Linked DNA regions of Homo sapiens. The protein of the gene in region 7 purifies or fractionates together with the protein of the main gene of each other region. This does not show direct contact. Each region holds a gene or a part of one and is shown on either strand. Other genes may lie near its edges. The genes, in order: SLC25A46, ARFGEF3, SLC67A2, DOP1B, FLVCR1, MON2 and SLC2A9.

Region 1 (3,500 bases), on a different chromosome or scaffold from region 7:
TAGATCTCCATAAATCTGTCTATACAACTCCATTTATTTTATACTGCCATTTGAATATATCTTGATCAGAACATCTATATATTAAAAAAAGAAACACATTCCAAACCCATAGAGAATAAACTTAAAAAGGCACAATCGTATTTTAATGTAGCACCTCAGCTTCTTTTCCTGATATTCAATTTCATACATACCCAATATTCCAAACATAAGACACTTCTTTTATTACCTAGACTGTCCAACCCCGTGACATTGGACATGTTACCTCTTCTTGCTTACATGTGTCTCCTTCATTAAATGAATACTTAAAGAGCGGGAATTGCTCACATACCCACATTTGTTCCTCAGCTGGCAGTTGCTGGCACATAGCAGTAGAAGCTGAAAGATACATCTCAATAGATACTAAGCCAAGACACATTTTCTTTATCACATACTAATTTAATAATATATAATTAATTTTATTCTTTGTTTTTTCTTTTAGTTACTTCAGACAAGTTTTCAGATTCAAGGTATTTTTTATTTATTATTAAAACAATATAATAGGGGAGGGATGGGGACAAGGGTTGAAAGCTACCTATTGGGTATGATGTTTACACAATTGAGAATTGTTGGATGAGAGGATCATTAGAAGTCCAAACTTTAGCATCACACAATATACCCATGTAACAAGCCTGCACATGTACCGCCTGCATCTAAAAACACATCACCACATGAAACTAATACTGAAGAAATGCTAAAAATGGTACCTTGGCAAAGGTGTAAATTCACTAATTATGCCTTCTGCTCCAAGTGTGACTCCCTGGACAATAAATGTACTTCCCATTCCTTTCCACAGGGCTCTAGGTCCCTAAATTGAACAAAATTCATGTTATTTCTGTTAATACCTACATCTGAAACACAAAAGATCTTAATAAAACTTGATATTGTGTAGACATTTTCCAATAAAACATTATTCTAATAGAAATATTAGTAGAGAACTACAATTAATTTTATATCATTTTAAAGTTATACTTAGGCCAAGAAGAACATTCCTATTAATTAAAACCCCTAATGATTAACTAATTTATTAAATATCCCTAATATCTATATATTCAACTCCCTACTAGTCCTGTCCTGTGGATGACACAAGGTAACTTGAAACTTACATATCCACAACTTAACCCAATCATACTCACTCATACCACACCAATTCTTTCCTTCTCTGCTGTATTTCCTATTTCCCTAGATAGCAGCTTCATCATCCTAGTGTCCAAACAATATATCTAGAAAACATTTTTATCTCACTCTTCCTATCTAATCAGTCCCCAGGTTCTACAAATTCTACTCCCTTAGTATCTTACAAATCCATGCTCTTCTCCATACTTAACACTATTACTTTATATCAATTTGACTACAAGTTTCACTGTCTCTGGTTTTGCCCCTTTGCATGATACCATCAGTAATACTCCTATTATTTATCTATATTATCTATATTATTAATAGATATACATGATAGAATTAAAAAGAAGCAATAGGGTATCAGCTGAAAAGTCTGTCTCCTTTTCATCCCAGTCCTCAGCAGCAGTTTTAAAATTTATCGGGATAATCCATGCATATACAAGTATATCTGTGTGTGTATGTTATAGAAATATTTTTGTTTTGCTTATTTTTAACAGGTAGTATTATCTTGAAACATAAAAAATATCCTGGAGATCATTCCACATTAGTATACACAGAGCTACCCTCTTATTTTTAAAGGTTACAAGGTGTTTCACCATAATATACCATAATTATTTCACTGGTACCCTAGTGATGGACATTTAATCATTTCCAGTCTATTATATGCAATGTCATAGGACATCCTTGTATATATATTTTTGCATATATATGTGCACATCTATGTGGGATAAGTTCCTGGAAGTGAAAGAACATGTACATTTTAAATTTTAATAGATATTGCCAAACAATCCAAAGGTCTTCAAGATATTTTGGTCATGGCTAAAACACCTTCAACAGTACTCTTGTAGCTTTTAAGATCTAGTAGTGTGCAGTTCTTAGAAGGTGCTTTAGAATCTGGATCCTGCTTACTTCTCTGGCTACTTTTTCATCTTTCTCTTACTCTTCAACCCCCACTTCAAGCTCCCATTGTACTCCATTAAATCCATTCCCAAACATTATGATCTCTCTTTGTCTTCTGCCTTCACACGTCTACTTTAAAAACCTTTTCTCTATCCTCATCATGAAGAGTCAGACTTCTCAACAAGAAGCACACAATTCGGGCCTTTCTTTTCCCAAAGTTTTTCCCAGCCATACACTGTGCCCAAGCCCAGTTTTGATAAGGTACTTCTCTTTTGTATTCTGACAGCATTCTGTACTTCTAATATTGCCTTTATCTTACTGCAGCACAATCTTCAAAGATTTTGTCTCCATGAATAAATATGAGCCTCTTGATAGCAGAGACATCATCTTAGCACAGCTCTTTGTGGTTTTGCTAAATTAAATTGTACTTTTGCTAAATTACATTTTGAAAGATTCAAAAACATATCGTTGTGCTACTTTAGTTTTACTACAACAGTTAAGATGTTTTATTGACCAAACTGAAAGTAATTATTCTTGCTTTAATGATTACTAAACCCAAATGACACTTATATAAACCTTTAATAGAATCCAGACAAAATTCTCACCTGAGTTTTGTTGAAACTGTACATAATATTGATGACTGTAAATGGAGTGAGATGGTAATGCTGAGCATGGTAATTAACCTGTAAAAAAGATATTTCATTATTTTTTTCTGTTAATGTTTTGTCAAGAAATAACAGAGCCATGAAAGAAATATGGTGGAATTGCAGTATAAACAAAAGTTAATTCCAAAGTCAACATAAATTACACATAAGCAAAATTACTCTTAAAAGTGCTTTAAATAACCTATTAAAAGTACAGTATGTATGGTTATATAAATACAATCTGAAGACCAATGCATAATACACACAGTACTGTAGACTATATAATAAAGAGGGTCTTATTTGATATTTGGTTTGCCTTAAACAACTGAATTACATCTCCCAACTCATGTTCATTTTAGGCAAGCATTTTTCAAACTGTACTTGGCAACTGACTGGTATATGAAATCAACTGGGGGAGTGTCAAAACAATATTTATTATGTGAAACAATAAAATATTAGAATGTATTACATTCTAATGGTATTATTTCATAAAACATTTAAAAATAATATATTTGTTACTTATATGTAATGTATCCATTGGATCTCCATGTTAATATTACTACAATGTAAAATATATATCTGAAATACACTGTTCTGTGGCACATACAGTCAATGCTACTTTAATGGTATTTCTGTATACATACTTTTCAGTGCTAAGCATGAACAGATTAATTTATAATGATTTATACTGTTTTGAACTCTAACAGCTAACAAATACAGGAAGCATTACTTTACAGAGAAAGTGGGTTATAACAGGACGGGCGCAGTGGCTCACACCTGTAATCCCACCACTTTGGGAGG
Region 2 (2,613 bases), on a different chromosome or scaffold from region 7:
TTTAGAAACATTGATTCTATGGATGATCATTTGTATCATGTTGACCCTTTGACTTGTACTGAAGGTGATTTTAAATTTAAGTATGTAGTGTTTGAATTTCTTCCATCCATGTCGTTTTAATGAGATGTTTCCATGTCAGCTCCTTTACAGCCTTGGCTCCTGGCTTACAGATTTTTGAATAGTTGTTTGCTTGCCAGTTGTTTTACATCTTTCATTGGCCACCAAAATATTAGCCATTTGAGATGAGATGAGACTACTTGTTGTACCTTCATCTTTCATTTAATTTTCTGGCGTAAATTAACATTTTAATTTCATATATATCTGTAAAGAGTCTACCCAAAGGCTTCACGGAAATTTGCAAAATGAACTAATTCCCTTTTAAGCAGCAGGTGTGCCTGTTTTTGACTTTTCAGTAAATATGTTGTTTGTGCACATATCTACATGGTGGAGACCATATTCATTATTTCATCTTCCAAATAATGGGAAAAATATAAAAGTGAATCAGTGTGCTTTGGGAATTCAGTGAAATCATGTTAACTCATATAGAGGGGGCCTTAGTTTATCTCTTCTTTACTGAATTAATTAGTTTTGGAAATTCTTTTACCATTAAAAAAAATTAAGGACCATACAGAGAATGATTTAAGAAAAAACAAGTCACTTAAAAATCATCACCTATTTATAAACTGTATTAATTACACATAATGCTTATTGATTCAATGAGGTTTCTCTAAAGACTTCTGCTTAATAAATATGCTGACTTCATTTAAATTAGTTTAGACTATTGTAGGAATGGAAGGAAATGATTATATTTACTAGAATTAGTGAGATCAGAAAGCATATCAGAATGTTGATGATATCAAGGAGACAATCTACAGAGTTTTTGCCTCTGTGGATGGAAATAAGGGTGTTTTTTTTTGGTTTTTTTTTTACTTTAGTTTCCCATAATTTTTGGAAATTATGTGTGCATTTAGTTCTTTTAGTAACACTGATTTTAAAATTAAATTTCAAAAGTCAATCTCTAAGAGTAATTTATTTTTGTTTTACCAACCAGTGCCAAAAAGGAGAGGAGGGAATCCAAAAGCCAATCTTTTGAACCAATGTGTAAAAGATTATGTTTTTTCTTAAAGTTAGGGAGGCTCGGGCCCTGACACTGCCAGCCCCAGTGAGCATCCCTGGCTACCTCGGGATTATGTGCAAGCTGCTTTGTCCTACATTTCTTTCATCTGGTTCTTATTGGGAGTGCTTCTCTCTAATAAAAATTGATTTCCCACAAAATAGGCAAAGCTGAACAAAGATGAATGCTTTTGATAAGTTGGGTTTCACTTCAGTTGAAACAATGTGATAGAATATCCAGGTGTGGCATGATGGGGCAGGAGGAGGTGCCTAGAGGGAAAAGTTATTTTTGTTTCTTAGTGTTGTGTTGTGGGGATGGGACAGATAAGAATAAGATGTTTATTGCCCTAATCATGCTAAGAGACTATTATTCAATATGCTTTTCCCGCTTTTCTAAGAGGAATAAACTTAGACAAATTACATTATAAACAGTTCCCCTACTACTATCTCCCACTCTAGATAAAGCCAGTGGGTGGTATGGGTCCTTTTATTCCTTATAGTATTATGCCAAAGAATCAACTTATTTTCATTGAAGATTATAAATAAATGAAGCTTGTTATAGCCATAATGATTTGAGTCAGTATACCATTTTACCTATAAAATGCAAAATTCATCCTTGCAACCCCATTCACCAGGAGCCTTGAAGCATTTTGTTTACTCCAAAGGCCTTGTCAAGGAAGCATAATTTTTTGTTTTGCCTTCTTATTTAGTCAGTTTGGTCATATTTACTTAAAAAAACAAACTGAAAATCACACTCCTTTATATGTTGATATAACTGATTTTATAGAATCTGTCTGTTCTTTGTTTAACAGGTCTCTGTAAGCAAGCTTGCAAGTGTATTTTGTGTACATTTTATCTGAGGTGGAAATGAAAATTCTAAAGAGAAAATATTTTAAAAGATATTGTATTTATGTTGCTTGTGTTGTAGAATAAAGATTCAAATGCATTAAAAATCTGGTACATGAAACAATTGTGTTTACTGAATAAATATATATAAATATCCTGTGTTTACAGAATTCTGTCAAAAGAATTAGGCCCCTTTTCATGGCATTTCATAAGTCTAAATGTAAAGGCCCATTTTAAATCCTGTAACATGGAGATAGTCATTATTGACAATTTGGTATATGCCTAAAAAACAAATTTGTAGAAATAATATATCATTTCCTTGTTTAAAAAAAGGGCTTATTCTATGATATTATCTTTTACTCATAAGAACTTATATCAAATTCCTACTGTCAGTAGATATTGATGTAGATCATTCATTTAAAAAATTAAAGTATTACCTTTTGTTCATAAACAACCAAAAATCCAATTAATAAGAATATTAGTATTTAAAAGTAATATTAAAAAATACAGCCACTTTTAACTTCCTGATCTTACTAGATTATTGTTTTAAATACACATATATCAAAATATCACACTATACCCCATAAATATGTACAATTAATGTAATTAGTGATGTCAATTAAAAACAAAATTTTTTGCATGGTGGCTCATACC
Region 3 (3,500 bases), on a different chromosome or scaffold from region 7:
CAAGCGATTCTCCTGCCTCAGCCTCCTGAGTAGCTGGGATTACAGGCATATGCCACCATACCCGGTTAATTTTGTATTTTTAGTAGAGACGGGGTTTCTTCATGTTGGTCAGGTTGGTCTCGAACTCCTGACCTCATGCGATCCGCCGCCTCTGCCTCCCAAAGTGCTGGGATTACAGGCGCGAGCCACTGCGCCCAGCCCAAGAGTTCTCTTTTCTCCACATCCTCATTAACACTTATCTTTTAAAAATATGTCTGTATTAGCCCTCCTAACATGTGCGAGGTGATTTTTCGTTGTGGTTTTGATTTGAATTTCCCTGATGATTAGTGACATTGAACACCTTTTGTTTTTCCATCAGCCACTCCTTGGAGAAATGTCTATTCAGATTTTTTGCCCATTTTTAAACTTGGTGTTTTTTTGTTTTTGTTTTTGTTTTTTTTGCTGTTGAGTTGAAGGAGTACCTTGTATAGTTTGGATATTAACTCTTTATCAGATGTATGATTTGCAAATCGTATCCACTGTGCAGGTTACTTTTTGCTTTGCAGATTGTTTCCAGGTTGCTTTTTCACTTTGCTGATTTGTTTCCATTGCTGTGCAGAAGCTTTTTCGTTTCAGGTAGTTCCACTTGTCTATTTTTGGATTGGTTTTGTTGTTATACCTAAGAAATTATTGCCAAGGTCAATTTCAAGAAGCTTCTACCTTCTTTTACAGTTTCAGGTCTTATGTTTGTCTTTAATCCATTTTGAGTTGATTTTTATCTTTAATCTATTTAAGTTGATTTTTGTAATGTGATGTGAGGAAGGGATTAATTTTATTCTTCTGCATGATACATATTTTAGTTGCAATTTAAAAGGGAAATATTTTATTTTTAATGTATTTAATATAAATTTAAATACAATTATGGAAGTAAGAAAGAAGACTATGCAATCTCCTGCTACAGACCCCCAGTTGTTTCTATCATGGTAATGCACATGCCTCACAGCTGGCACAGTGGTAGGTGATGGGCAGACCCTGCCCCTCTCTCTGCCTTCCTCCATACATTCTGGCCATGCTGGCTTTCTGGTCTACCATATGTATGCCAGGCTCATTCCCATAGGAGGGCATTGTACCAGGCCTGTCTTCTACCTGCCACATTCATCCCACATCTGTTATTGGCTCTCTCTTTTCAGCATTCAAGACTGAAATATCTGCTTCCTTAGGCCTTCTCTGACCATTCTGCCTAAAAGAGCTTAATTTTCTTCATAGCATTCTTGAAATTATGTTATTAGTTTGTTTTACTGCTTACGTTCTCTTTGTTCCCCCAAATCAGTAGGCAGACTCCATGAGGGAAGAGATTTTGTCAGATTTACTCACTGCTATCACCCCTGTGCAGAATACACATTGGGCCGGGTGCAGTGGCTCATGCCTGCAATCCCAGCACTCTGGGAGGCTGAAGCGCGAGGATTGCTTGAGCCCAGGAGTTCAAGACCAGCCTGGGAAAGATAGTGAGACCCTGTCTACAAAAAATTTTTTTTTAATTATCCAGGCATGGTGACACATACCTGTAGTCCCAGATCCTCGAGAGGCTGAGGCAGGAGGATTGTTTGAGCCCAGGAGGTCAAAACTACAGTGAGCCGTGATCACACCACGGCATTCCAGCCTGGGTGACAGAGTGAGATCCTGTCTCAAATAAAGACATACATATATACATACAGACACACACACAGACACACACACACACACACACACACAGGACTATGAGCTCCTTGGATGCAGGGCTGGTTGCTTAAAATGTCTTTCTTCTTCTTCACTTAGAGAGTGGTGCATGGCTGGCCCTTGGATAAATGACTTCATAAACGAGAATTCATGCTAGGCAGTTTTCCTTACATTTAATGATATTGTACTTTACTGCAGCTTTTTGAATCTTCATATTCAAGGTTCTCTTTTGCATGATGATTTCCTTATTGGGTTAGGATGTCAGACCCAGGAAGCAAAGTTCATGAGCTTATTCTCAGTCCTCACAGAAATACATTATGATTTGTTGCCAGGAATTTACTTAGCCTGTAACTTGAATCAGGAGGGGTGCACATAAACCTAGATAAAAATCTCAAACACATGCCTCGTTGATGTGACCAGGTATCTTCACATATAAAGGAAGGTACATGAATGTGGTATCACTCAAAATTGAAAGTCAGCATATAACAAAGGAATTGGTTATGGAATTCTATTTTGGATCCTTCAACAATAGTGCCATTTAATATGTTGCCCTATCTTAAGCCTATAAATGGGTCTAAGCAGTTAGGAAAACATTCCGCTGCAAGTGTTCCCAACTACAATGGCTTCAAGGAAGAGGGACTTGTTTTTCCAACATAAGAAACTTGAGGATAGGCAGGCTGGGGCCAATAGAATAGCAGAGGAGGAGAGGGAGGATGACCTGGCTAGACAGCACATACTGTCCCACCCAGGGCTTTGGCCATTCAGTGCAGTGAACATATCATCATGCTGCTTTCTCATTCCAGTCTTGCCATCCTTTACCCCTGAATGACTATAGCTGTTTTCGTCAACGCTTTTACTCCGTTAGCTTCTTATATCCTCCTCTGATCCGCCACTTTGCCTGAGAAAGCCTTTTCATTGTGATTTCTGTTCATATGGTTAGGAACTCCAAACTCTGGAATCTGACAGACTCAGGTTCAAATCCCTGCTTTGCCAGTTTTTAGTGTGACCCTTGGGCAAATTGTCTTCCATTTTTTCATCTATAAAATGGGGTAACAAAACACATAGCCTTGTTATGAGAACTGTAAGAGGTTCTGCATACAAGCAGCTTACCCCAGAGCCTGAGGTAGGATTGCATAGACCTTGTCTTGTTTGTTAATATTTTCTTAGCGTTTCACACTTACGAACTCCATGAATATTGGAAGGTTGGACAGATGGATGGGTAGGTGGGTGGATTGCTTATAGTAAGCACTCAACAGAAGTTAGTTGCCATCATCATCATCATTTTTATTATTTTAATTCTACTTTTTTAGTTCATCAGCAATAATTCTTTCACATCTTTATCAATATTCTGTGTAATGTTCAAGGGCCCTTTTAAGATTGAATTATTAAAAGTCCACATCCTCCACATTCTCATGTGGTTGGTTTTCCGTTGTAAATTTGTCTATGGCTGAAGCACTTATACAATATTTGGAGAAATGACACACAAATGAAGTTGCTGAAAACAACATGAAGCAGCACTGAATAGCCACTGGTCTGAGTTGAACTTTTAAGTGCTCTTTAGCACTTAAAAAACAGTAGGATAGAGTTTGGAGGGATGTCCTAGAATGGCAAGTTTGAATTCAGTTTTAAGAACACTTTTGGGCATGGATTGGCAAGAGATCAACAGGCAAGAATGTGCTAGTCCTATGAGGACAGAGGTGGGATCATCTGAGTGGCGGTTAGAGCCACTGCGTAAGGTTGTATATGTTGTGGTCTATGAGAATGGTGCCCCCTGAGGTTTTGCAGGTGTGACCTGCACAAGCACT
Region 4 (3,500 bases), on a different chromosome or scaffold from region 7:
CTGGGAGTGGGGTCTGGGTGGAGGCAGGGAGCCCATGACTCCTCCACTGCACTCACCTGGATTTAGCCTCTGCCACATCCAGCAGAGGGGTGGGAAGGTGACGTGCTGGTGGCCTGCCCCTCCCAGGAGGTGCAAAAGCCCTTGACTGGGAGCTGGGGAAAGAGAGCACCCTTTTGCTTGGCCACATGCACCAGAGTGGATAGTGACGTTTCCATGGAGCTAAGCTGGGGAAGGAAGGAGATGATGAGCAGGTCATGGCTCAAGTGCCATGACTCTTGCTGCTTTGACCGAAATGTCGTAGGTTTTCCGGAATAAATGTTTCTTTATTTCCTGAATGTCCTTTGGATAATTTCCAGACTCTAAATGGTTGGTTGTTGTTGGTTTTAAAATAATTTTCACCAGTTATGGTTGTGTTGCTTGGGAGAGGGTCTGTCTGTGGAACTCCTCACACCGCTCAGCTTTGGTTCCATGTGGGACACCATCTACGGTGTCAGGTCCTGGGGGAGCTTTTACTTAATTGCTCATTGACTTTTTTTGTTGTTGTTGTTGAGACGGAGTCCCGCTCTGTCACCCAGGCTGGAGTGCAGTGGCACGATCTCGGCTCACTGCAACCTCTGCCTCCCATGTTCAAGCAATTCTCCTGCCTCAGCCTCCCGAGTAGCTGGGACTACAGGCACCTGCCACCACACCTGGCTAATTTTTGTATTTTTAGTAGAGATGGGGTTTTACCGCATTGGCCAGGCTGGTCTCAAACTCCTGACCTCAGGAGTTTGGGAGGCCCGCCTCAGCCTCCCAAAGTGCCAGAATTATAGGTGTGAGCCACCGTGCCCAGCTGCTTATTGACTTTTGTACCACATTTCTTCTTCCTGCTAGAGTTGAGTCACATTAGATCTTGAATAGACAGAACTTGAAACCAGGACTGGAACCGCTATAAGCAGCAGTGATTAAGCAAGTGTCATCTTGGCCCTACATAGATCAGAGATCAGAAAATTTGGCATATTTACACTATATATAGGCACAGGGGAGAAAAAAGAAGAAAGAATTGAGATCATGAATCTTTGGAAAGGTACTCATAGAATAAAAGTGGCAGCATTAAATACATTCCTTTTATTTTGGGGCAGTGAGGGAAGCTTTTCCAAGTTCTTACTGAAGCCTTGATTTTTACTTTCATTTTCATGTAGTACATATTCAAGTACTTACCATTTGCCTGGCACTAGAGCATACTTTTCTTTTTTTTTTTTCCTTGAGACAGAGTCTTGCTCTGTTGCCCAGGCTGGAGTGCAATGGCATGATCTTGGCCTCTGCCTCCTGAATTCAAGCGATTCCCCTGCCTCAGCTTCCCTGGTAGCTGGGACTACAGATGTGCGCCCTCACACCTGGCTAATTTTTGTATTTTTAGTAGAGACGGGGTTTTACCATATTGGCCACGCTGGTCTCAAACTCCTGACTTCAAGTGATCCTCCCACCTCAGCCTCCCAAAGTGCCTTACAGGCGTGAGCCACCGCACCCGGCCAAGAGCATACTTTTTTTATTGACATGTAATATTGTATATATATATGGGTACAATTTGATATTCTGACACATTTATACATTGTATGATGATCAAATCATGGTAATTAGCATACCCATCACCTTAAGCATTTATCATTTCTTTGTTGTGAAAACATTCAGAACCCTCTCTTCTAGCAATTTGAAATACACAATGCATTATTGTTAGCAGTAGTCACCCTACTGTGCAGTAGAGTACCAAGATTTATTCCTTGGAGCACACTTTTATGTACTGTACAGTTCTTGAGAGTTGAGGACAGCGGCAGCTAGTGCCTGTCCCTGTTGCAGATGCTGGAACTAGAGACACAGCAACCTTACCCATAGCCAGGACGTGCCCCCAATTCTCAGACTCCAGACAGGGCTGTTGTCTGATCTTTCAGCCTTTTTTTAATCCTGCGGGAACAGCTCACATACCAGAGTTCCTGCTTCCCACAGTGCAAACAAGAAAAGGTCAGATAGCCCAAGGGTGCCCTGACCTTTCTTATCAGGTAGTGTTGGCAGATTTCAGATAACTAAGACAACACCCAGAACAGAGGAGTAGAGTAAGGTTTAAACATGTGAAGGAAGGCCCGGCTCGGTGGCTCACGCCTGTAATCCCAGCATCCAGCACTTTAGGAGGCTGAGGGCTGCTTGCTTGAGCTCAGGAGTTCGAGACCAGTCTGGCCAACACGGCAAAATCCCATGTCTAAAAAAAAAAAATACAAAAATTAACCTGGCATGGTGGCACACACCTGTAGTCCCAGCTACTTGGGAGGCTGAGGTGGGAGGATCACTTGAGCCAAGGAGGCAGAGGTTGCAGTGAGTTGACATCGTGCCACTGCACTCCAGCCTGGGGCACATAGTGAGACCCTGCCTCAAAAAAATATATATGAGGGAGTAGGTATGGATTTGTGATCGGCATCAACTCTCAAAAACCTTGCAAAAAAATTTTTTAAACCTTCCGGAAGGGAGTCTCTTGCATATATATTTGCCATAGTGACAGCAAGGAAGTCGGGGGGGGGGCGGTCTACGTAGTCAAAAAGTTATATATCAGAATTCAATTGTAATGTGATTGTTGGAAATCACTTTCCCTTAGAGAAAAAGTAACAAAATAATGGTTAGGAGTTTGAGCCAGTCAGTGGTTAACTTGATCTATGCAGAGAAAGACGGTTTTGTTGAGTAGAAATAAATGGGCCAAAGAAGTTATTTGATCTAAGTTATGCCTAAAATACTCCAGTCTATGAGATATAAACTTCATATAGTCTATGAAGTATAAGAATGTCTTTAGAAATTTAGAAATTTCCCTCCCGGAAGTGGGGACCAGCCCTCCTTCTGGGTCTCACCCTTGTTGGGGCAGGCACACTGGCTCCTGCTCCCTGCCACTTGGCAAGGGGCTGTAGCCCTTTGCAGACCATGCATGTTTAATGAGCTCAGTTCAGGGCTGGGAAGATGGAGGACACGATTTGGGGGTATAATAGTGTTTTGAAAGTGAGGCAGGCACCTGCCACAGCGTTGTGCAGGGAAAAGGGAAGAGTCAAGTTAGTGGAATTAAAGCTGGTAGGCGTGGCTCTTTATCCATGCTGCGTGGTAACCAATTCGAGCAGACCCCAGAGGTGACCAAGTGCTGTGGAGCTGAACCCCAGAATGAGTGATCTTGACAACCACTGTAAATTCACCAAACTCCCCAGAGGGTACATCTGTGCATTCCCCAGTGCCTGCTCGGCACCTGCCTGTTGAAAGAATGCTTCAACCCCTTTGGTCCAGTTTCCAGTTAATTCTCTTTCTGAAAGTAATGTTGAGGTTGAGGCAAGAGCTGCAGTGTTCTTAGTCGGCCAGAAACCTCCAGGTTTGACCTCCTATAACATTGCCTGCTGCCTGGATGACTTTGGTGGGTTTTTCCTTTTTTTCTTTTTTCTTTTTCTTTTTCTTTTTTTTTTTTTTTTTGAGACAGAGTCTCACTCTATTGCCCAGGC
Region 5 (3,500 bases), on a different chromosome or scaffold from region 7:
CTCAGATCCAAGAGAGGAATAATTATTTCTGGCAGCTACAGCCTTTTGAAGTGTATTTCTTAAAGAATAAGACTTGAAAGTTGAAATTACTCCTTGATCCACGGGCTGCAGAAGGGATGCTGTGTTTCCAGACATGAAAGCAACATTGATCTCCTCGTACATCTTCATCAGAGCTCTTGGGTAAACAGGTGAATTGGTCAATGAGCAGTAGTATTTTGAAAGGAATGTTTTTCTCAGTAGCAGGCTTCAACAATGGGTTTAAAATATTCAGCAAACCATGCTACTAACAGATGTACTATCAACTACGGGGTTCAGGTTCATTGTTCCATTGTTAGAGCTTAGGCAGAGAAAATTTGGCCTAATTCTTAAGGGCCCTAGGATTTTCAGAATGGTCAACAAGCATTAGTTTCAATGTGAAGTCACCAGCTGCATCAACCCCTCACAAGAGAATGAGCTTGTCCTTTGAAGCCAGACATTGATTCCTCCTCTCTAGCTATGGCAGTCCTAGATGGCATCTTCTTCCAGTATAAGCCTGTTTCATCTACATGGAAAATTTGTGGTTTATTGTAGCCACCTTCATCAATCATCTTAGCTAGATCTTCTGGATAACCTACTTCAGCATCTACATCAGCACTTGCTGCTTCACCTTGCACTTTTATGTTATGAAGACAACTTCTTTCCTTACCTCATGAACTGACCTCTGCTAGTTTCCAGCTTTTCTTCCGCAACTTTCTCACCTCTTTCAACGTTCACAGAATTGGACAGTTAGGGCCTTGCTCTAGATTAGGCTTTGGCTTACGGCGATGTTGTGGCTGGTATGATCTTCTAACAAGACCACTCAAACTTTCTCCATATCAATAGGCTGTTTTATCATTTGTGTTCACTGGAGTAGCATTCTTAATTTCCCTTAAGAATTTTTCCTTTGCATTAGCAACTTGGCTAATTGTTTGGTGCAAAAGGACTAGCTTTTGGCCTATCTGGGCTTTTGACATGACTTGTTCACTAAGCTTAATCATTTTTAGCTTCTGATTTAAGAGGAGAGATTTACTACTCTTCCTTTTGCTTAAACACCTGGAGGCCACTGTAGGGGTAATAATTTGGGGGTATTAATCAGGGCCCTGATTTCAATATTGTTGTGCCTCAGGGAATACCATTTGAGATGGTAAAAGCATCAATGTAAAACTAATTTTAAAGATCTATTTTCACTTCTTAATTTTCTAGACTTGATTTGTTTGAATTAGTATTCATGAATCTCTTGTAAAAGTAATTTGAAGGAGGATTACAAAACTGCTCCCTTCTTTGGTATAACAATAATACTGTTTTTTTTTTTGAGACGGAGTCTCACTTTGTCACCCAGGCTGGAGTGGTGGTGTGATCTTCACCACTCACTGCAACCTCCGCCTCCCGGATTCAAGCAATTCTTCTGCCTCAGCCTCCCAGATTCAAGCAATTCTTCTGCCTCAGCCTCCCAAGTAGCTGAGATTACAGGTGTGTGCCCATAAAACTGGCTAAAGTTTTTTGTATTTTTAGTAGAGACACGGTTTCACTATGTTGGTCAGGCTGGTCTTGAACTCCTGACATCAAATGATCCACCTGTATCAGCCTCCCAAAGTGCTAGGAATACAAGTATGAGCCACCACGTCCAGCCAATAGTAATAATCTTAGATAAGATATAGTACTTGCCTAGGAATTAAGAACCAACATGGAATTACTTATGAAAGAACAATAGTTAAAGCAGTTAATGTATTACATATTTCACAGTTTTGTATGTTTTATTTTACTAACTGGACAGGGGGAAAAACTCCCTGTGATAAGATGTTTTTCTTTGAGGAAACAGAGTGCATTCACTTTCTTTTAGCTTCGTGAATGAATGCTCAGGTTCCTATCATTCATACAATTGAGTGAGCGACCTTAGGTAGTTGTGTATATCCAAAATGTCTATCACTGGTGAGATTTCATATTGAAGGTTTCACAAAGAATGATCAGGTATTCCACAAACAGTAGAAGAAATTCTGATTCACATCCTTCTGATAGATTCTCCAACTAAGTTATAACCAGATCCTCCAACTAAGTTATAACCAGATCAACGAAGCACAACCTCCCTTGGTATCTGCGGGGGATTGATTCCAAGACCCCACCTCAGATACCAAAATCCACGAATGCTCAAGGCCTTTATATGAAATGGTGTAGTATAAGCTTGTTCAACCTGTGGTCTGCAGCCCATATGTGGCCCAGGACAGTTTTGAATGTGGCCTAACACAAACTCACAAATTTTTAAAAAACATTATGAGATTTTTTGCAATTTTTTTTTTTTAGCTCATTAGCTATCATTAGTATTAGAGTATTTCATGTGTGGCCCAAGATATTTCTTGTTCCAATGTGGTCCAGAGAAGCCAAAAGATTGGACGCCCCTGGGAAGTATTTACATATAACGTACACACATCCTCCTATGTACTTAAACCATCTCTAGATTACTAATACCTAATACAATGTAAATAGCTGTTATACTATAATGTTTAGGGAATGATGACATTTTAAAAGTATGCACCTGGAAAAAGTTCTGCTTCCAAATCTATTGTACACCCATGTGCATGGGCAAACTATGGATAAAAATTCTCTGACATTCTCTTTCTCTGGAGATTGAGCACTATTTTCTTTCCTGCCCATGTCTATGATGACTATACCTAAGAAGTATAAGCACTAGCTAAGGATTCCACATACTATTTCCACCACTACCACTTGACTGCTTACCATCTCTACCACATTATAACAATAGTAACACATGTTAGGCACGTCCCAGGTGCCAGACACTAGGAACTTTTCATGAACCATTTCAATTAATCCTCACAGTAACCCTATAAAGCAGGCTTTAACACTCTATTATATAAATAAGGAAAGGAGGATTTGAGAGGTTAAGCAACGGGTCTAAAGTCACACTCCCACTGAGCAACAGAATCGGAATTTGAGGCCAGGTCTTCCCAACTCCAGGTCTTTACTACTCTTTTTTTTTTTTTTTTTTGAGACAGAGTCTCGCTGTTGCCCAAGCTAGAGTGCACTCGTGTGATCTTGGCTCACTGCAACCTCTGTCTCCTGGGTTCAAGCAATTTTCCTGCCTCAGCCTCCCAAGTAGCTGGGGCTACACGTGTGCGCCACCACAACTGGCTAATTTTAGTAGAGACGGGGTTTCGCCATGTTGGCTAGGCTGGTCTCAAACTCCTCACCTCAAGTAATCTGCCCGCCTCTGCCTCCCAAAGTGCTGGGATTACAGGCATGAGCCAACACACCCAGCCTTTACTACTCTTATTATAACAGTTTTGCTTGCTATGCAGAGTAACTGTATTGAATTTGAAATCTGCAAAATGAAGTAAGAGATTCATGTCTTTAGAAGAAAACAAATAATGTCCTGCTTTTTATCTCATTTTTTTCCCCTTGAGTTCTGTCAAGCTATTGAGAAGCAATATATATGAAAATTAACACATGACACAAGTCCTTTTGCCAGG
Region 6 (3,500 bases), on a different chromosome or scaffold from region 7:
AAGTATTCTTAAAGAATTCAACAAGAAAATAAATTTTTGAATGTAAGTTTAACCTAAGTGGTTACAAACATTACTGTTCTACTAGTTCCATTAAAAAAAAATAACAATCACCATTTCAATGGTATCTCATAGTTTACAAAGGACTTCCAGATTTATCTTATTTTCCTCTCACAATTATTGTTTAAAATTGGTATTACAAGTTGAGTATCCCTTATCCGAAATGCTTAGGATCACAACTGTTTCCGATTTCAGATTTTTGAATATTTATATTATATATACTTATGCATTTATTTGCATAATATATTTGTAAATACTTATGTTTGCATTATATACCTATTCACATTATATACTTATCCAATGAGCCTTTCCTTTGTCATGTTGGTGCTCAACAAGTTTTAGATTTTGCAGCATTTTAGATTCTGGATTTTTGGATATCCCATGCCCACCCCCCACCCCCCACCCCATATTTTTAAAGAGCTCTCAGGGACATTAATTTCCCCAAGGTCACACAGTCAGTATGTGAAAAAGCAGAGACTTAAACTCAGATGTTTATAATCTTCTGTCTACACCATATCATCCCACTACATAGAGAGAATTTTGAGTAAGCCTGTCTTACATTTGTTGGAAAGTGTAGCTGCAGTGGTGGTATTCAATACAGTAAGAGCATAATGGGGAGGCAGGGAACCTTTGCATATTGCAGTTATAAAGGCATCTCTTGAAGTTACAAGGCCCAGTCTTCCACAAAGAGCAGCCATAGTCAGTTCAGCTTTTAAAATATTCTCAGTGGCAGCTTCATCTGTGCTGAAAAGAAAGTATTTTATTTAATCTGATTAACTTATTTTTAATTACATTGTAAAGCATGATGTGGAATTAAGTATTCAGTGACATTTTAAGAAAATCTATACAAAAATATTGTCAAAATATTACCAATATACTTAAGAAGGAATTTTAATCTATTAACATAACCTCAAAAATTTGAACTGGGTAAAAGCAATGAATAATAATACATGTATTTATTACTGAAGAAAATGACCAAGAACATAAAGATTTAGCTTAAAATATCAAGCATTTTGAAACCAGTAAATTTTTAAATCCTAAAGAAAAAGAACAAAGAAATTAAATATAATCATAATTGCAAAAGTAGTTGTAAGTCTTGAAATGAAAAAGGCATTCTGTAATTTTAGGACTGTATTTTCCATTAAAACATCATGACAATTCTGGTGGCTTGGGGCAGGGCAAGGACAGAATGAGGAAGGGGGATGAGGGAAAAAGAATAATGTTTCACACATATAAAAAACTAATATTAGAAAATAATTCTAGGGACAAATGTAAGTAAACCATTTTAATGTGTTTTTTTTAACTGACACAGTTCAATATAAAACTTACAAAGACTTAATACCTGGCATCAAGAAGGAGTGAGAGTGCAGCAAGAAGACCACACCAGCAGGCATTCACCATTTCTTCCCAAACAGCCCTACTAACTTAAAGGAAAAAAACATACAATATTTAATTTTAATTATAGATAGCACAATATGTATTAATATGTGAAATTCTAAAATTTTCCCAGACAATATGTCAAATATTCCATTAACAACTTAATTATTAAATCTAATATTCAGTATTTAAAAATCTAAAAGAACGAAAACTCAGAAGCCGTACTATAGTTTCAGGCTTGAAGAAGTCTTAAAAATAAGTTGTTGTAAAATATCTATGGTAAGATCTTTCTGTACACGTTAAATTTTATATATATATATAAAATATATATATATATATATATATATATTTTTTTTTTTTTTTTTTTTTTTTTGCGATGGAGTCTTGCTCTGTTGCCCAGGCTGGAGTGCAGTGGCATGATCTTGGCTCACTGCAACCTTCGCCTCCTGGGTTCAAGAGATTTTCCTGCCTTAGCCTCCTGAGTAGCTGGGATTACAGACACACGCCACCACACCTGGCTAATTTTTGTATTTTTAGTAAAGACAGGGTTTCACCATGTTGGTCAGGCTGGTCTCAAACTCCTGACCTCGTGATCCACCCACCTCGGCCTCCCAAACTACTGGGATTACAGGCGTGAGCCACCACGCCCAGCCATTTTTTTTTTTAAGAGACAGGGTCTTGTTATGTTACTCAGACTGGACTCAAACTCCTGGGCACAAGCAATCCTCCTGCCTCAGCCTCCCAGGTAGCTGGGATTATAGGCACATGCCACTATGCCCAGCTGATATCCTTTCCTTTCCCTTTGCCTTCATCAACCCAAACTTTCTCAGCCTGTGTGACCAGTTGGAGTGAGGGCAGGGCGCAGTGTAACAAACTGGCTCAGCCAGGAGACTGATTACATACACTGAGAATCAAGCAAATAAGTAAATACACTGAGCAAAATGTGAGCAGGTTCCAACACTGTTGGAGAAGGGAATTACAAATACAGAAAGTTAAAAATAAACCTTGTGGTACTGAACTGGAACTGAAGAAACTAGTGTGATGTCATGGTAATTCAATATAGAGAAACAGACATTTTAGAAATGTACAGAGACGTGTGCTTGTGTGTGGGGGTGTGTGTATGTGGCTATGTATTTCCTATCCAAGTGGTGAAAAGCATACCTAGTATACCTGTGTTCGTTTCAATACTATTCTCCACTAAAAGGAACCAGGACTTCCTGGAGAAATGACTGACACCTGGGATGGACAAGAATCATCCAAGATCAGCCTGGAACATCTTGTTCTATCAAATAGGAAGTGCTCAGAGAATGTCAAAAGGGCATGGGACATGTCCAAAGGACACACGGGTCATCTTGAAAGAGGTCCCATTGGCCATGTTGGGAACAATCTGAGCATCAAACCAAATAATAATAAAGACTATAATCCTCTGAATAAAATAGGAATCCATGAATCTACACTAATATAAGTGAATAATTTTTAAAAAATAAAAAAATGCAGAAGGGAAAGCACTCTTTTGTAGTAGCAATCTGAAAGTATTTTTCCACAAAAAGTTAATAATTAACTGTACACTGAAGAAACCAGGCTGACATTGTATTAACCAACTCATAGAAGTGAGCATCTCCAATAATGACACAAATTGATACTGTAGTATGCTTCCTAATGTAATGATACAGTAAGTACAGCACAGCAACATTTCTGTGCCAGTCCTGTCAAAAATGAATAAGCTGAATGTAATTATGAAGGAACACAACACAAACTCAAACTGACTGACTTGTACTCAAAAAAGTAAGGTCATATAAAACAAGGAAAAACTAAGAAACTTCCAAGTTGAGACATGGCAACTAAATTCAACACATAAAAGGACATCACTAGGGCAACTGGCAAAATTTGAATGAGACCTGGAGTTAGATGATAATATTGTATTGATGTTAAATTTCTGATGGTGATTGTACTATGATACACAGGAGACTAACCTTATTTTGAAAAAATACACACTGATGCATTAAAGGGTAGTAATACGGCATCATGTCTGCAACTTTTTCTATAAATAGGTCAGAAAAAAGTAT
Region 7 (3,774 bases):
CCCTGAAGTTTTGAGCCCATTCCTGGAACACAGTTTGGGAAAGACAAAATCTGCAGGCTGGTGTGTTGGTATTAGGCTCTCCAAAGCCTGAGATCCACAAGGTCAAATATTGGAAACAGGCATTTCTTAGGCACTATGAATAATCTTTCCACTGACTTCTGAAAGCCTATATCAGGGATGGAAGCCTAGGGTCATTGAGGCACTGGGATCCAGGTTGAGGGCAGGTCAAGGCTGCTTGTGGTAAAGCTGGGACTAGAACCTCAGTCTGTGATCTCTAATCCGTTGAGTCCCCTATCAGACCAAATTGATTTTTCTTTGATAAAGCATTAACCTACTATTTCCCCAATTTCATTTTGAAATCATGGGTTGAGTCATGAAGAAGGCAGGTCATCTACCTATATAGAAGAACGCTGGGTCTACTGAAACATAGAGTGATTCCTTGCAGCTTCCAGAAGGGTTTGGGAGATTCAGTTGTGAATAATGCTAACACAGTTGCAATGTTAGATTAGTACAGGTTTACTTTTAAATATTTAATAATATAAAAGACTTGCATAGCTTCAATTCATTTAAGCTTCCCAATAATGGGTAAATTTTAAGTTTCCTGAAAAGTGAGATCATCCATGTAGACAATCCTGTTTTTGACATAATTGTCCAACGTGGAGGAGGAAACTTGTTAAGGCCTTCCATTTATCTTACCATCAGTGACAGCTGAGTCGATTTTCTCTTCTGGTGGGTATGCTTTGTTCCTTTTGGAAAATGCCTGGCTGATTTCTGCATAGGTTCTGTTTTTGGTCTCAGGCAGCACAAAATACAGGTAGATAGCACCTGTGATACAAATTGTAGCAAAGACTAGGAAACAGTAGGTGTCCAGACTTTTCTGTGGAAAGGCAGAGACAAAAACCCTCAAATAGATAATCAGTAAACTTGCTGTTAAACCATCTCTACACAGATTTTTAAGATAGCTCCACATTCATATACCAATACTCCTAGACAAAACACCATGTGTGATGCTGGCTCAATAAGGCAAGTGTACCCTACATGAAGTGTTATCACATAAGGCTTGAATAAATCAGCTTCAAACTCTGGGAAAGATGAGAAAATGGCACTTTTTTGTTGTTGTTGTTGCAAATTTGGCATTTAAAAATTAATCATCACGAAAGCAAAATGGAATGCTTGCTGAATATTAGCTTAAGCTTATATTTACAATTAACCACATTGTCTTCTTGCTTCTACTATACACATGAGACAAGAATGACATCAAAAGGGAAGAGAAATGCCTTAGTTCATAGGAAGAATGTGGAGCACAGAATAGGCCAAGGTAATGCCAGTTTTTTCTAATATGCAAATGATCTAACTCACTAATTGATACTCTGAGGCGGCCTTGCACAAATAAGAGAGATCAGAAAAAATAGAAATGCTCAATGCAATCACTCCGTTTTATGTATCCTGATTAGTGTTTGGACTAGAATAACCCTGCCAACTGCACTAGACCTTGAGCTTCTCAGTGACTCAGTCACCTCTGTAGCTCCTGTGCCTTATAGGAGGTACTCAGGACATATTTGTGGAATAAAAGACTTGAAATCCTAGCCTCAATCAATCTGCTTGCTTTGGTCTCCCAGGTACTGGGATTATAGGCATGAGCCACCATTCCAGAAATAAAAGACTTTCTGGGTCCCAGCTGTCAGGATTGTGACTATTATATGCAACAAACATCTACTGATCCAAAGATAAGGTGACACTGTCTTTGAATAATATTTCCCAAGAAGCAATATCCAGATTTTAGTCAATTCCATTCTATTCTTTGATTTGACAAACATTTATTTTTGGAGAATGGCAAAGTGCTTAAGCTTGATCCCTGGATCACATCCTAGATCTACCATTTACTAAATCTGAGACTCTTTGTCCCTCAGTTTCCATGATTGAAAAAGAGGATAATCATGGTACATGTAGGGTTGTTGTATGAATTAAATGAGACATTCCCTTTAAAGTGCCACATGCAGTAAATGTTCCACACCTGGGGGTGCTTAGCTCTTGAGACTGTGCCTTCTGCTCGTACAAAGACTTCAAGAGTAGTGTGGAGAAGGGGGAGAGTATGGGCTCTGAAGCCAGTCGAGTGGGATTCAAATCCTGATCCCATTACTCACATGTTGTTCTAACACTTATGATGTGCCATTTAAGATAGAATTTCAATCCACTGAGCATCTGTTTCCTCATTTGCAACATGGTGATATATACCCACACATTGTTTTGAAGATGAAATGAGATATATCAATTTTGCATTCAACATCCTCCACACCCCCATCTGCAGGCGGAATGGACATCTGACTTATCAAGTCCAAAGTGGAGCCTCTAAAACTGCCTGCTCTAGCCTTCCTCATCTCTGCTGATGGCACCTCCATCCTTCTGATTGATTATGCCAACAAAAACACTTGGAGGCAGGCTGAGCTTCTCTCTCTCTCTCCCACCCACATCTGCTCCATCAGGAAATCATGTTGCTCCACCTTGAAATGTATTCCAAATCTGAGGGTTTGTCATCACTTCTATTGTAACCTAATTTTGGTGCAAGCCACCATCATGTTTTGCTTGGATTTTTGCAATAGCTTGTCAACTGATTTCCCTGCTTTTCACTTTAAGCATAATCTTAAGATTATTCTTAACAGACAAGCCAGAGTGATCCTGTTAAACAAAGGACAAAACTTGTCACTCCTCTGCTCAAAACCCACCATGACTTCCTAAGTCACCTGCAGGAAAGCCAAAGTCCTCACCATGGCCTCCAAGGCCACCGACCATGTGTCCCTCTTATTTCTCTGATCTTACTCTCCTCACTTTCTTTGCCCCAACTCCACTGCCTTTATGATTTCCCTCCAGTATTAGGCCTCAGAATCTTTGCACATGCTGTTCTCTCTTGCTGGAATAATCTTCGTTTAGGCCTCTGTATATCCTGCTTTCTTACTCCTCTTCATCCGACTTAAAGGTCATTTTCTCAGAGAGGTTCTCGTTGACTCTCATTTTGAAATAGCCCCTCCCAGCCCTGCTTCATTGCCTTCAAAAACACTCATCACTATGCAGCATTATAGTGTGCAACTGCCTGTTTATTAACCTTCTCCCTACCAAGAGGTAACTATCTGAAGGCAGGAGTCATCATTTTTCTTGTATTCCCAGAGCCCGGAGAGTCTCTGATATACAGTAGATGCTCTGAGTATCTTAGTGAGTGGATGGATGGACTGAGGCTCAGAGAGGCTTCCTGCCGTATCCCAGGCCACAAACAGGGCTTCCTAGGACCTCTCTGACACCCACACAGCTGCCTCTTGCTTGGCTTTCTTTTCCCAAGGGACCTGATGGGTGTCGTGAGGATTATTCTCACAGTTTCACAAAATTCAGTCAAGAACATGTGGCTCAGCCGAGCACAGTAGCTCACACCTGTAATCCCAGCACTTTGGGAGGCTGAGGTGGGTGGATCACTTGAGGTCAGAAGTTCAGGACCAGCCCGGCCAACATTGTGAAACCCCATCTCTACTAAAATTACAAAAATTAGCTAGGCGTGGTGGCAGTCGCCTGTTATCCCAGCTACTTGAGAGACTGAGGTAAAGATTAAAACTGGACCCCCTCCTTACACCTTATACAAAAATTAACTCAAGATGCTTAAAGACTTAAATGTAAAACCCAAAACTATAAAAACCCTAGAAGAAAATCTAGGCAATACCATTCGGGACATAGTCACGGGCAAAGATTTCATGACAAAAATGTCAAAAAAAAAAAAAAAGAAGAGCAACA

Evidence for each region.
Region 1: the proteins of SLC2A9 (region 7) and SLC25A46 purify together in Homo sapiens (affinity purification with mass spectrometry; one large-scale study listed by BioGRID and IntAct). This does not show direct contact.
Region 2: the proteins of SLC2A9 (region 7) and ARFGEF3 purify together in Homo sapiens (affinity purification with mass spectrometry; one large-scale study listed by BioGRID and IntAct). This does not show direct contact.
Region 3: the proteins of SLC2A9 (region 7) and SLC67A2 purify together in Homo sapiens (affinity purification with mass spectrometry; one large-scale study listed by BioGRID and IntAct). This does not show direct contact.
Region 4: the proteins of SLC2A9 (region 7) and DOP1B purify together in Homo sapiens (affinity purification with mass spectrometry; one large-scale study listed by BioGRID and IntAct). This does not show direct contact.
Region 5: the proteins of SLC2A9 (region 7) and FLVCR1 purify together in Homo sapiens (affinity purification with mass spectrometry; one large-scale study listed by BioGRID and IntAct). This does not show direct contact.
Region 6: the proteins of SLC2A9 (region 7) and MON2 purify together in Homo sapiens (affinity purification with mass spectrometry; one large-scale study listed by BioGRID and IntAct). This does not show direct contact.

What each region holds. Positions count from the first base shown.
Region 1 is NC_000005.10:110,745,507-110,749,006, reverse strand, and holds part of SLC25A46 (mitochondrial outer membrane protein SLC25A46), read right to left. Parts: intron 2,739-3,500; coding exon 2,661-2,738; intron 845-2,660; coding exon 744-844; intron 1-743. UniProt on the Homo sapiens protein: Transmembrane protein of the mitochondrial outer membrane that controls mitochondrial organization.
Region 2 is NC_000006.12:138,342,551-138,345,163, forward strand, and holds the end of ARFGEF3 (brefeldin A-inhibited guanine nucleotide-exchange protein 3), read left to right. Parts: 3' UTR 1-2,113; downstream 2,114-2,613. UniProt on the Homo sapiens protein: Participates in the regulation of systemic glucose homeostasis, where it negatively regulates insulin granule biogenesis in pancreatic islet beta cells. Also regulates glucagon granule production in pancreatic alpha cells.
Region 3 is NC_000002.12:102,719,889-102,723,388, reverse strand, and holds part of SLC67A2 (major facilitator superfamily domain-containing protein 9), read left to right. Parts: intron 1-3,500.
Region 4 is NC_000021.9:36,233,324-36,236,823, forward strand, and holds part of DOP1B (protein DOP1B), read left to right. Parts: intron 1-3,500.
Region 5 is NC_000001.11:212,889,275-212,892,774, reverse strand, and holds part of FLVCR1 (choline/ethanolamine transporter FLVCR1), read right to left. Parts: intron 1-3,500.
Region 6 is NC_000012.12:62,532,826-62,536,325, reverse strand, and holds part of MON2 (protein MON2 homolog), read right to left. Parts: intron 1,482-3,500; coding exon 1,400-1,481; intron 802-1,399; coding exon 617-801; intron 1-616. UniProt on the Homo sapiens protein: Plays a role in regulating membrane trafficking of cargo proteins. Together with ATP9A and DOP1B, regulates SNX3 retromer-mediated endosomal sorting of WLS away from lysosomal degradation.
Region 7 is NC_000004.12:9,825,724-9,829,497, forward strand, and holds the end of SLC2A9 (solute carrier family 2, facilitated glucose transporter member 9), read right to left. Parts: intron 878-3,774; coding exon 674-877; 3' UTR 501-673; downstream 1-500. UniProt on the Homo sapiens protein: High-capacity urate transporter, which may play a role in the urate reabsorption by proximal tubules. May have a residual high-affinity, low-capacity glucose and fructose transporter activity. Transports urate at rates 45- to 60-fold faster than glucose.